Linked DNA regions of Homo sapiens. The protein of the gene in region 3 interacts with the protein of the main gene of each other region in a biochemical or structural test. Each region holds a gene or a part of one and is shown on either strand. Other genes may lie near its edges.

The links.
Region 1: of the proteins of ATP6AP2 (region 3) and AGT, one has a biochemical effect on the other in vitro, tested with the Homo sapiens proteins (one study listed by BioGRID).
Region 2: the proteins of ATP6AP2 (region 3) and REN form a complex in vitro, tested with the Homo sapiens proteins (one study listed by BioGRID).

What each region holds. Positions count from the first base shown.
Region 1 is NC_000001.11:230,703,973-230,707,622, forward strand, and holds part of AGT (angiotensinogen precursor), read right to left. Parts: intron 2,229-3,650; coding exon 1,961-2,228; intron 366-1,960; coding exon 221-365; intron 1-220. UniProt on the Homo sapiens protein: Essential component of the renin-angiotensin system (RAS), a potent regulator of blood pressure, body fluid and electrolyte homeostasis.
Region 2 is NC_000001.11:204,156,305-204,159,954, forward strand, and holds part of REN (renin preproprotein), read right to left. Parts: intron 3,292-3,650; coding exon 3,095-3,291; intron 1,066-3,094; coding exon 1,057-1,065; intron 493-1,056; coding exon 373-492; intron 16-372; coding exon 1-15. UniProt on the Homo sapiens protein: Renin is a highly specific endopeptidase, whose only known function is to generate angiotensin I from angiotensinogen in the plasma, initiating a cascade of reactions that produce an elevation of blood pressure and increased sodium retention by the kidney.
Region 3 is NC_000023.11:40,601,442-40,605,091, reverse strand, and holds part of ATP6AP2 (renin receptor precursor), read right to left. Parts: intron 1-3,650. UniProt on the Homo sapiens protein: Multifunctional protein which functions as a renin, prorenin cellular receptor and is involved in the assembly of the lysosomal proton-transporting V-type ATPase (V-ATPase) and the acidification of the endo-lysosomal system.

The DNA.
Region 1 (3,650 bases), on a different chromosome or scaffold from region 3:
GCAGGAGGAGGCACAGCAGGGATGGGGAGGGATTTGCTGCTCTGCACCTGGAAGGCCCCAGAATGCTCTGGCTACTTCTCTCCCACCTTTGGCCCTACTCTCCGCTCCCTCTTGCCCTGCTGGCCCCACCCATAGCCTCCTCTGTGTCCCTTACATCCATGCCTCCCACCCTGTGCACACTTGGAACCCAGGTCAGGCACAGACACAGGCTCACACATACCTCCCCCACCCTGATGCGGTCATTGCTCAATTTTTGCAGGTTCAGCTCGGTGTGCAGAATGGCGGGCAGCTCAGCCTGGGCGAGCAGGTCCTGCAGGTCATAAGATCCTTGCAGCACCAGTTGGGGCATGGTCAGGTGGATGGTCCTGGGGAGATGATGCACAGTTAGGAAGGCTCCAGGCCACACAGTGAGGGCTCTCCCAGAGGCCAGGCAGGCTTATGCTCCTTGCACCCAACCCTGACGACAGGGATGTTTGCTCCCCCCATCACCCAACTAAGTCATCCTCCCCCTTGGGGAAAATTTCAGCAAAACCTACAATAAAAATCCTTCATGTCATTTGCAATACTATGTGAGGGACATAGAAGATTTACCGATGAGGACCTAGGAATGGTTGTCCTTTGGTGCATTCTGTTTTTAGGTTGGCTGCATTGAAGGTGTGTTACTTGGGTAATTTTTAAATGCTATTCTCTGAAATAATGCACTGTGTCTTACTACTGCCACAGCAGTGTTCTTGATGACATGACACCCATGAAAAGGAGAGAGGCAGGAGGGTACAGTGTCAACCTCGTGCTGGACACGTTGCTATGTCAACTCGATTGATCTTCGTATAGAGCCTCTTCCATCTTTTGGCATCCTTCAGAGCCCATGGACATTTCCAGTGATGTATCAAGCACTTATAAGAGCTGACAGTACACCCATGTTTACAGGGTACACTGCACTATTCACAGCAGCTCAAAGGTGGAAGCAACCCACGTGTCCATCGATGGATGAGTGGATACACAAAAGGTGGTAACCACATGCAATGGAATATTATTCAGCCTTCAAAAGGAAGGACATTCTGACATGTGCTACAACATGGGTGAACCTCGAGGACATCGTGGTGGTTGCCGGGGCCAAGGGGAAGGGGAAATGGAGAGTTAGTGTTTCAGCAGGACAGAGCTTCAGTTTGGGAAGTTGAGAAGATAAATGGAGATGGACGGGGGTGATGGCTGCACAACAGTGTGAATGGGCCTAGTACCACTGAACTGTGCACTCGAAAATGGTTACGATGGCAAATTTTGTTACGTATATTTTACCATCACAATTTTTAAAACATAAAAAACACCCAGAGTTGATGTCAAGCCATCGTGTCACTCAATGCCTGCCTCTGGGAGCAGATTTCCAGGCCTCGATGATCTGGGGTGATGTGTAGTTTGAGTCCAGGGCTCTGTGGAAAGGAATTGCAGCAGGAAAGAGGAGCTAACAACACCTATCCCCACCCAGCCGCCAGCCGCCAGCAAGGGCGTTCTGGAGTCAAGGGACGCTCCCTGAGAAGGCCCCACCCCCGCTCACGCGAAGTCCGAACCCTCCTGGCAAGTCAGTTCCAAGAAGCTCTTGGATGTCACAGGTGTGCTGTGTGTCAGGTGTGGGACCAAAATGGTCCTCTCTCAGAGGGCGGATTGCAATGTTTTCTCCCCCTCCAAAACTACCAGGCAAGTGTAAGTGTAGAAAAAGCATTCTTCCTCTCCTCCTTTACCTTGCCTGCACTTGAAAGACAGACACTAACTGGAGAGCTGGGTGCTGGCTGGATAGAGGACTGGTAGACAGACACACAGGCCGCCTGCCCAGCCCCGTGCCACCGCGGCCCTGCCCTGCTCTGCACCCAAGGCTCAGCTCAGGTGTGTCTACTCCCCACCCCGCCCCCAGCCTGGGCAGGACAGTGTGGCTCCCACATTCCAGGGGAGACCGGGAGGCTCCTACCGGGGAGATAGTTTCTTCATCCAGTTGAGGGAGTTTTGCTGGAAAGTGAGACCCTCCACCTTGTCCAGGTCAGAGGCATAGTGAGGCTGGATCAGCAGCAGGCAGGCGCTCTCAGTGAAGGGCACTTGAGTCACCGAGAAGTTGTCCTGGATGTCACTCCAGTGCTGGAAGGTGCCCATGCCAGAGAGCATGGGAACAGACACTGAGGTGCTGTTGTCCACCCAGAACTCCTGGGGCTCGGCCAGCAGGGAGAAGCCCTTCATCTTCCCTGAAATCCAGACAGGAGACAGGGAGGGAAGAGTCACCCAAGACAGGGGCAGGAATGAGGGCTGGCAGACACCAAAGGCCCAGATCCTGCCCCTCGCCCTGCCTCAGCCTCCTTCCTTGGCCCCCCCCAGGCCACTCTGCATTCTCCTGGCCACAGGACCGCAAGTGTGGCTCAAATATTTCTCCTGTAAAATGCAGCCATTTGAGTTCACTGAGGCAGCCCTAACCGCCACCTGCAAGACACACAACATGCCAGGCACCAAACCGGGGGTTTTGCATCTGTCACCTTAAGGGACATAAGCCACTGGTACCTGCCAGGTCAACTCAAACCTAGAACTGTCCTGACCCAAAGGCTGTGGTTTGACACACTCACTTTTTAAAAAATTTAAGAGATGTTATTTTTTAGAGTGACTTTAGGTTCACAGCAAAATCGAGCAGAAAGTACAGAAAGTTCCCATATAACTCTTGTCCCCCACTACACAGCCTCCCCCGTGATCAACATCTCACACCAGCGTGGCCCATTTGTTGCAACTGACGAACCTACACTGACACGTCCTCAGCACTCAAAGTTGATAGTTTTCTTTGAGTCTCCCTCCTGGTGTTTTACATTCTGTAGGTTTGGACGCACGTAGAATGACATGTGGCCACCACCGCACTATCCCACCACTCCTAGAGGCCCCTGCTCATACTCACTTTTTAATCCATGTCTAGCCCCAGCCATGGCAGAGCCCACCAGCTGTCCTGTGGCCCCCACCCTCCCCCATCACAGTCATAGAATACAGAGTGGGCCACGCAGGCCCCGGAAACGAGGGCTCCATTCCTCAGCAGCCCTTGCTACTGGGGAGACTCACACAACCTCGTTGTGATGAATGGATTTGCACACTGGGCCTTGGGGGCAGGGGTGAGCCCTCTGTTTCCCCTCCTGCTCACAGGGCCGTGCAGATGACAGAGAACTCGGGAGAGCCCGTTGTGGGAGAAGGACACAAATTTGTGTGTGACGCAGTTACCTGGGGTCTTTCCATGACAGCAGCCCACCCTCTGCCTCGACCTTACACTAGCACATCCCTGCCCTCGGCTGTCCTCCCACTCATCCTGAAAGGCCTATTCTGCGGTTGTTCTTAGGAGAATAGGGTGAAGTTGTGTATAAGTTTGTCACAGAACAGTCCCCTGGGCACGTGGCACTTGGGAGTCTGAGTAGAGATGGTTCAGAAACAGTGAGGTCTCCCTTTGTACTGAATTGGAGGTCCCAGCATGAAAGTAGGGCAGCTGGGAGGACAGAACTGGCAGGCAGGAGCTGGGCATGGCTGTGCCTCCCCTGGGTCCGGGTCTCGTAAGAAGGCAGTGGCAGACCTGGCATATTTCTCGTCCTCAGTCCTCGGAGCACTCAGTCTCGGAAGGGCATGTGAGCGGGAAACTGCAGGGT
Region 2 (3,650 bases), on a different chromosome or scaffold from region 3:
GACCCCACAGACACCCTGGGGGAGGCCACAGTCAGACAGACAGACAGACAGACAGACAGAAGGCTGATGGGGCACCTCCAGGCTGCATGTCCTTCCTGAGTGTGGGTGGGTGGGTGGAGGCCACGCTGGTGGCCTGTTGAGGCAGTGAGTAGAGGAGGGAAGGTACTGTCACCCTCCACCACTTCTCCCCAGGCCCCTCCCTTCTCTGTTCCCCAGCCTGGACAGAGCAGGCAGAGAGCAAATGGTGGCTGTGCTTAAGAAGTGGCTGCATTTGGAAAGAGGGCAGGATGGTAATGCAGTCCTTCCCCACCCTCCCCAACCCCAGTGACGGCAGCATTTTTTGGAGCCCGGGGAGGGTTGAGGATTTCTGACCCCTTCATTTGAATCTGCCAGACACCAGTCTTGATGAGGTTGATATAGTGGAAATTCCCTTCGTAATGCTGGGGGTCGCTGCCTCCCAGCACAATCTGTCCTCCCAGCGATTGGGAATTCCTAAAGGAAAGATCAGAAGCTCTTGGAAACCCATAACCTCCAGGACCCAGCAACTCAGGCAATTGGGGAAGGTTGCACAAGGGTGCAGGGGAGGACAGAGGGCTCTAGAGCAGAGGAATGTGGGACAGACAGCCAGGCTCGGAGCTGTCGTTGGGAAGCATGCAGAACATACTGCTTCTCTGCCTTTCTTCCCCTCCCCAAGACCAACCAGAGGTTGTTCCAGGGTAGTCCAGCTGTTCCCCCAAAAAGCATCCCCAGAGAGGTCACAGAAAAGGAGCAGGTACAAGGACAGTGAGTGGATGTGAACAAGACACAAATGGACACCCCTCACTCTTGGGTTGCTGCTGATTGAGCAGGTGCATGGGAGGGGACCCTGGGGAGGCTATTGGGTATGGGGTGGGCAGGTGGCATGGAGAGAGCAGGAAGGAGAGACAGAGAACTTCGGCATCTAGCGGAGGCTGGGCTTGCTGATGTGAGTTTTGGGCCGGTGGCGTGTGTAATTCTAGGTCAGGTGCTCGGGGAGTACTGGAAGGTCACAGCCATGTGGGGGTTTTGTCTCCTTACTCGGAATCTCTGCAGAGAAAGAGAGACAGCAGAAAGGAAGCTTCATTTCATGCCAGCCTCATCAGCCCTGCTGTTTGGCAGGGTGGGTGTTATGTACTCTCTTTGCCCTTCAGGCAATGGAGTCACCAAGAGGCGAAGTCACTTGCCTGAAGTTACCCAGTCCATGAGTGAACAAGTGGGGGACTGGAGCCAGGCTCCTGGTGCCCCGTCTGGAGCTGATTCCCCTCACCTTCCTTTCCTCCTCACTGCACTTGGCTCAGGGACTACTGTAGGCCTAGTCTCCAGGGCATGCCTGTGTGTGTGATGTGTTTTTCCAGAATTCATACTAGAATTCACACATGCACATGTGTGCATGGGTGTGTAGGTGTGCATATGTTATTTTGTGCAACTGCAAACTACTTGTGTTTTTATAAATTCGGAATGTATGTGTATATGCTAGCACAAATTCCCTCCTGCCTGTCTCTCAACACTTCAGTATCTCTCTGGATGTTCCCTCCTTCCCATCCCAAGATAAAAGAAGAGGCCAGCCCTCTCCTCTGCAAAACCTGGCTTCTTCCTGTCTGCTGGAACCTCATCTCTTTCAAGGCCTCCAAACTCCAGTGCCCCCATTTAGCTCCTCTTCTTTCCACATTTTTAATCTCTTTCTTTCCATTGGCTTCTTCCTCCACCTACAGGCATCACTCGAGCATCCTCTAGCATTTAAAAACACCCACCCTTCCTCTTCTGCTTCTGGATCTCACCCCCCACGCCACCCCCCATTCCCTTCCCTGTTGAATGTCCCAGGGCAGCCTACATCTCATGACCTCCACTTCCTGACACCCACGTCGTCCACCTCTTAACTTCTTGCCATCTGGCCTTGCCCCCACTTCCTCTAAAACAGTTCTTCTAAAGACCACCCCTGAATGCAGAGCCGCCAATTGGCCTTTTCTCAAGGCCTCACTTTCTATCACCAAACCGGAGACTCCTCTCCATTTTACTGTGAGATTTCTCTGAACTCTGATCCTCTCCTCTATTCTTTTTGCCACTGGCCTCATGTTCTTACCCTTGTGACTTTTTTTTTTTTTTTTTTTTTTTTGAGACTGGATCTCACTCTGTTGCCTTAGCTGGAGTGCAGTGGCACAATCACTGCTCACTGAAGCCTTAACTCCTGGGCTCATGCGATCCTCTCGCCTTGGCCTCCCAAAGTGCTGGGATTACAGGCATGAGCCACTGCACCCAGCCCCTTTTGCCTCCAGCTCTCTTGTCTCCAACTCATGCCATCTTTCTAAGCCCAGCAGTTTGGAGTAGAGCCCAACCCTGCTCAAGAGCTTCCCCAAGGCTGGCTGAGCTGCATATAAGCTCAGCCTAGAATTGAAAAGCATCCATGGTTTTCAGCACCACACTTGCTGCCTGCCTGTGACACTCTTTATGTTGGAATATGTCTTGTCTTCCCTGTTAGCCTGTAAGCTCTATGTGGGTAGGGGAGTACAGATTCTGCCTTGTTCACTGTGTTCACTGCTGCACCCCCAGAGCCTACCACAGTGCTTGGCACATAGCATTTACTGAACTGATGAGTGAGCAAACAAACGAATGAAGGATCTAATGGATGACTGAAGTTGGCTGTCTCTGTGTGGGAGGAGCCATGGCCCTAACAGGCAGGGCTACAGGTCACAGTAATCCCTTATTTACCATCGCCCCCACCTTGCATCTCCTCTTGCTCCAGAGTGGCGCTGTCTATTAGAATGTCCTGTCATGCTGGGAATATTCTCTATCTGCACTGTCATAAGACTGTAGTTACTAGCCACCGTGGCTGCCAGGCATTTGACGTGTGGCTAGTACAACTAAGAGCCACCAGTTGAATGCTTAATTGATGCTTAACTGTATTTAATTAATTTAAATTTCAATAGTGCCTTCCATATTGGCTAGTACAGCTCTAGATATTGATTGGCTGTCACCTAATTACAAACACTTTACAATTCTGGCCCAGACTCTCCTTCCACTCCCCATCTCTTCTCCCCTCCTGTCCCCCCACCTCAGCCCTTGGAGTCCCAGTCCCCACCTGTTGTAGTAGAAAGAGAAGACGTCCTCTTTTAGCACCCCTTGGGAGATGATGTTGTCGAAGATAGGGGTGACCCTGCCAATGGCCTGTTCAATGAAGCCCATGCCCACAACCCCATCAAACTCGGCCAGCATGAAGGGTAAGGCGGGCATCTCCGTGACCTCTCCAAACATCTGTGTCACCGTGATTCCACCCACCTGTGGGAGGAAGGACCAGAGGAGACCAAGCCCACTGCCCACTCCTTGGTTGGAGTCTGGTCTGGGCTTCCACACTAGGGATCCCAGGGGCACACATGCTCCAGGGTACAGAAATCGGGGTAAGAGTATTTCCTCAACCCTGCACGCACACACTCTGTGCCAATACACATCTCTGCTGCGGAGCCCAGAGAGAGCTAGAGTTGACCAGGGATCGGAGAGCAGAGGCTGAGAGGGTGGTCCTGCCAAGCAGCAAAAGAAAAGCTGCCAAGAGCTCCTCCCCTCCCCAGTGGCCAGACTTTCGTGCCTGGCAGGACTGGGTCTTGGCCCCCACCCTTATCATGGGCGAAGGGTTTCTTTAG
Region 3 (3,650 bases):
AGGCGTGGCAGGTGCCTGTAATCCCAGCTACTCGGGAGGCTGAGGCAGGAGAACTGCTTGAACCCAGCAGGTGGAGGTTGCAGTGAGCCAAGACTGTGCCATTGCACTCCAGCCTGAGCAACAAGAGCAAAACTCCGTCTCAAAAAAAAAAAAAAAAAAATCATCAACAGAATGGAATTGTGGTATATCCCTACAAGCAGAATATGTAACAGTAAAATGACTAAACTACAGCTACATTTGTCAGCCTGAGTGAATCTTAAAAAGAATACTGAACAAAGAACACAGAAAAATACATGTAGTATGATTCAATTTATATAAAATTCAAATACAGGCAAAACCAAACAACACTGTTTAAGAACAAATACATATGCAGTCAATCTGTAAAGAAAAGCAAGGGATTAACATGATATCCAGGACAGCAGTTACCTCTGGATGAGGGAGGGTAGAGGGAGAAAATAGGGAGCTTCAAAGAAGCAAGCATTCTCTTAAGCTATTGATATGGTTTGGCTCTGTGTCCCCACCCAAATCTCATCTCGATTTGTAATCCCCACGTGTCGAGAGAGGGACCTGGTGGGAGGTGATTGGATCATGGGGGCAGTTTCCCCCATACTGTTCTCATGATACTGAGTTCTCATGAGCTCTGATGGTTTAAAAGTGTGCCACTTTCTCTCTCTTTTGCCACCTTGTGAAGAAGGTGCCTGCCTCCCCTTCCCCTTCCTCCATGATTGTAAGTTTCCTAAGGCCTCCCCAGCCATGTGGAACTGTGAATCAATCAAACCTGTTTCCTTTATAAATTACCCAGTGTCAGGTAGCTCTTTATAGCCATATGAAAACGGAGCTATACAGTGTTATTATTTTTATTATTTAAATAACTAGTATTAAATATGTTATATACTTATGTATGTATGATCCACTTAACACTTTTTTTTAAAATACAGAGCTGTGTAAAAACATTGTTTGGGAAACTGAATTCATTCTGACAAAGGCACTGTTTGGGAAATATCATTCATTCTGGCTAGAGAATTTTAAAAGTAGGAACACAGCAGGAGATGAAGCTAGAAGCAGGGAAGCTACAGAAAATCTGACATGAGCCTCTGGGCAATAAGGAGCCATTGACAAGCTTTAGGCAGAAAGTGAGTGACATGATCAGGTTTGTCTTAAAAAGATAACATTAAAATTAAAAATTAGCTGAGTGTGGTGGCTCAAGCCTATAGAACTGGCTACTCAGGAGGCTCAGACAGGTGGATCACCTGAGCCCAGGAGTTTGAGGCTACAGTGAGCTATGATTGCGCCACTGCACTCCGGCCTGGGACAGGGCGAGACCCTGTCTCAAAAAAAGAAAAGAAAAAAGATAACTTTGATGACAATGTGTAGGATGGATTTGGGAGGAGCCAGCTGGGAAGCAGAGAGACAGATGAGTTCAGACAAGTTAGGAGGCGGCAGTCAAATGAGGTGGGAGAAATGGGGGCAGGGTGCCTGGCAGTGAGGATGAGAACGAAAATGTAACCGAGATCTATTTGTCCCTACAGCCCCAGCACCTGGAATGTTGTGAGTACTCAGTAAATGTTCCTTAAACTCCTGTCTCCTTAAACTAATGGAAGAGAGTGATTTCAAATGTAGGAGAGAATGGGTACACAGGCATGCATATTTACCTGCGGGGAGCTCAGAGCTGAGGCAAACGTTAAAGGATTTCACGCCCATGAAGACCTCTTTGTTTCTTTCCTTTTTTTTTTTTTGATAAACATGTTCTTTTTCCTACCCATTTTAAGTGTACAAGTCAAGGAATTTTAGTGGTTTCATAGTTATCACCACAATCTAATTCTAGAACATTTCTATCACCCTAAAAAGAAATCTCATAGGCCGGGCATGGTAGCTTACACCTGTAATCCCAGCACTTTGGGAGGCTGAGGTGAGCAAATCACTTGAGGCCAGGAGTTCAAGACCAGCCTGGCCAACATGGTAAAACCCCATCTCTACTAAAAGTACAAAAATTAGCCGGGTGTGGTGGTGCATGCCTGTGATTCCAGCTACTCAGGAGGCTGAGGCAGGAGAATCACTTGAATCTGGGAGGTGGAGGCTGCAGTGAGTTGAGATTGTGCCACTGCACTCCAGTCTGGGTGACAGAGTAAGATCCTATCTCCAAAAAATCCAAAAAAAAAAAAAAAAAAAAAAAAAAAAGAATTCTCTGGGAGGCATCCCCACTCTCAACACATGTGCTGACCACCCAGAGCCCAGGTGCCTTTCTGTTTCCCTGTGCTGGTGGGCAAAAATTTCCAGTCTACCCTCTCACTGAGGGCACAGCTCTCTCGGGGTCCCCAGCTTTATCTGGAGTTGTCCATTCCCATCCCCCACACACAAGGCACCAAAGGACTCTTGGTGACCCAGCTGGCAAATATCCTTAGGGCGGCCTGCTTACCACATTCGGTTTTTTTTTTTTTTTTTGAGATGGAGTCTCACTGTGTCACCCAGGCTGGAGTACAGTGGCACAATCTCAGCTCACTGCAACCTCCGCCTCCCGGGTTCAAGCGATTTGTCTGCCTCAGACTCCTAAGTAGCTGGGACTACAGGCGTGCGCCACCACGCCCGGCTGATTTTTTGTGTTTTTAGTAGAGACGGAGTTTCACCATGTTGGCCAGGCTGGTCTCGAACTCCTAACCTTGTGATCCACCCACCTCGGCCTCCCAAAGTGCTGGGATTACAGGTGTGAGCCACCGCACCCGGCCTCCTCTTCTTTATTTACTCTGTAAGAGAATTTCCCTTTCTTGCGAGCTGAACTATGTATTTTTATTTTTGTAATTTTTTTTTTATTTGAGACGGAGTCTTGCTGTGTCTCCCAGGCTAGAGTGCAGTGGTGCAATCTTGGCTCACTGCAACCTCTGCCTCCCGGGTACAAGCAATTCTCCTGCCTCAGCCTTCCAAGTAGCTGGGATTACAGGTGCCCGCTACCACACCAGGCTAATTTTTGTATTTTTAGTAGAGACGGGGTTTCACCATGTTGCCCAGGCTGGTCTAGAACTCCTGGCCTCAGGTGTTCCGCCCGCCTCAACCTCCCAAAGTGCTGGGATTACAGGCGTGAGCCACCACACCCAGCCCAAACTATGTACTTTTTAAAAGATCTTTATTTTTATCTAGCATTTCTAGACGTTTTATGGTGGGAAATCTTGGGTGGTTGTCTAGACTGACATGCTGTCTGAAACAAAGGTCCTTCCATCCCCAATTTAATTTAGAAAGAAACAATCTCAAACCAGTAATCGCTAGACTATCTCAAACAGGCACTGGCTTCGACCTTCCGACTCCAAGTCCCACACTGACTTCAGTAAAACTGAGCAGGGTGAGGGCTGCAAATGGGTCTGAAGCGGAGGTGTATGTAATTGAGTGGATATCTATCTGCTGCAAGTGATACAGCCAGCCCTAAGCAATGTTCTCAGACGTAGGATGTTAGGGAGCATCTACACTACTCTTTCCCATCACCCTCCCTAGGTTCTGCTGCAGCTGTAAGTATATATGTATGTATGTAAATGTGCACGTACATACACATAAACAGATATGTATTTTACCATGGCCAGCAACCATGGTAATGCTTAACCCTGACCCTCTAAATGCTTAAAATCAAAGCAAGATCCATACCCAAAAAAACTGTTAAGTAAATC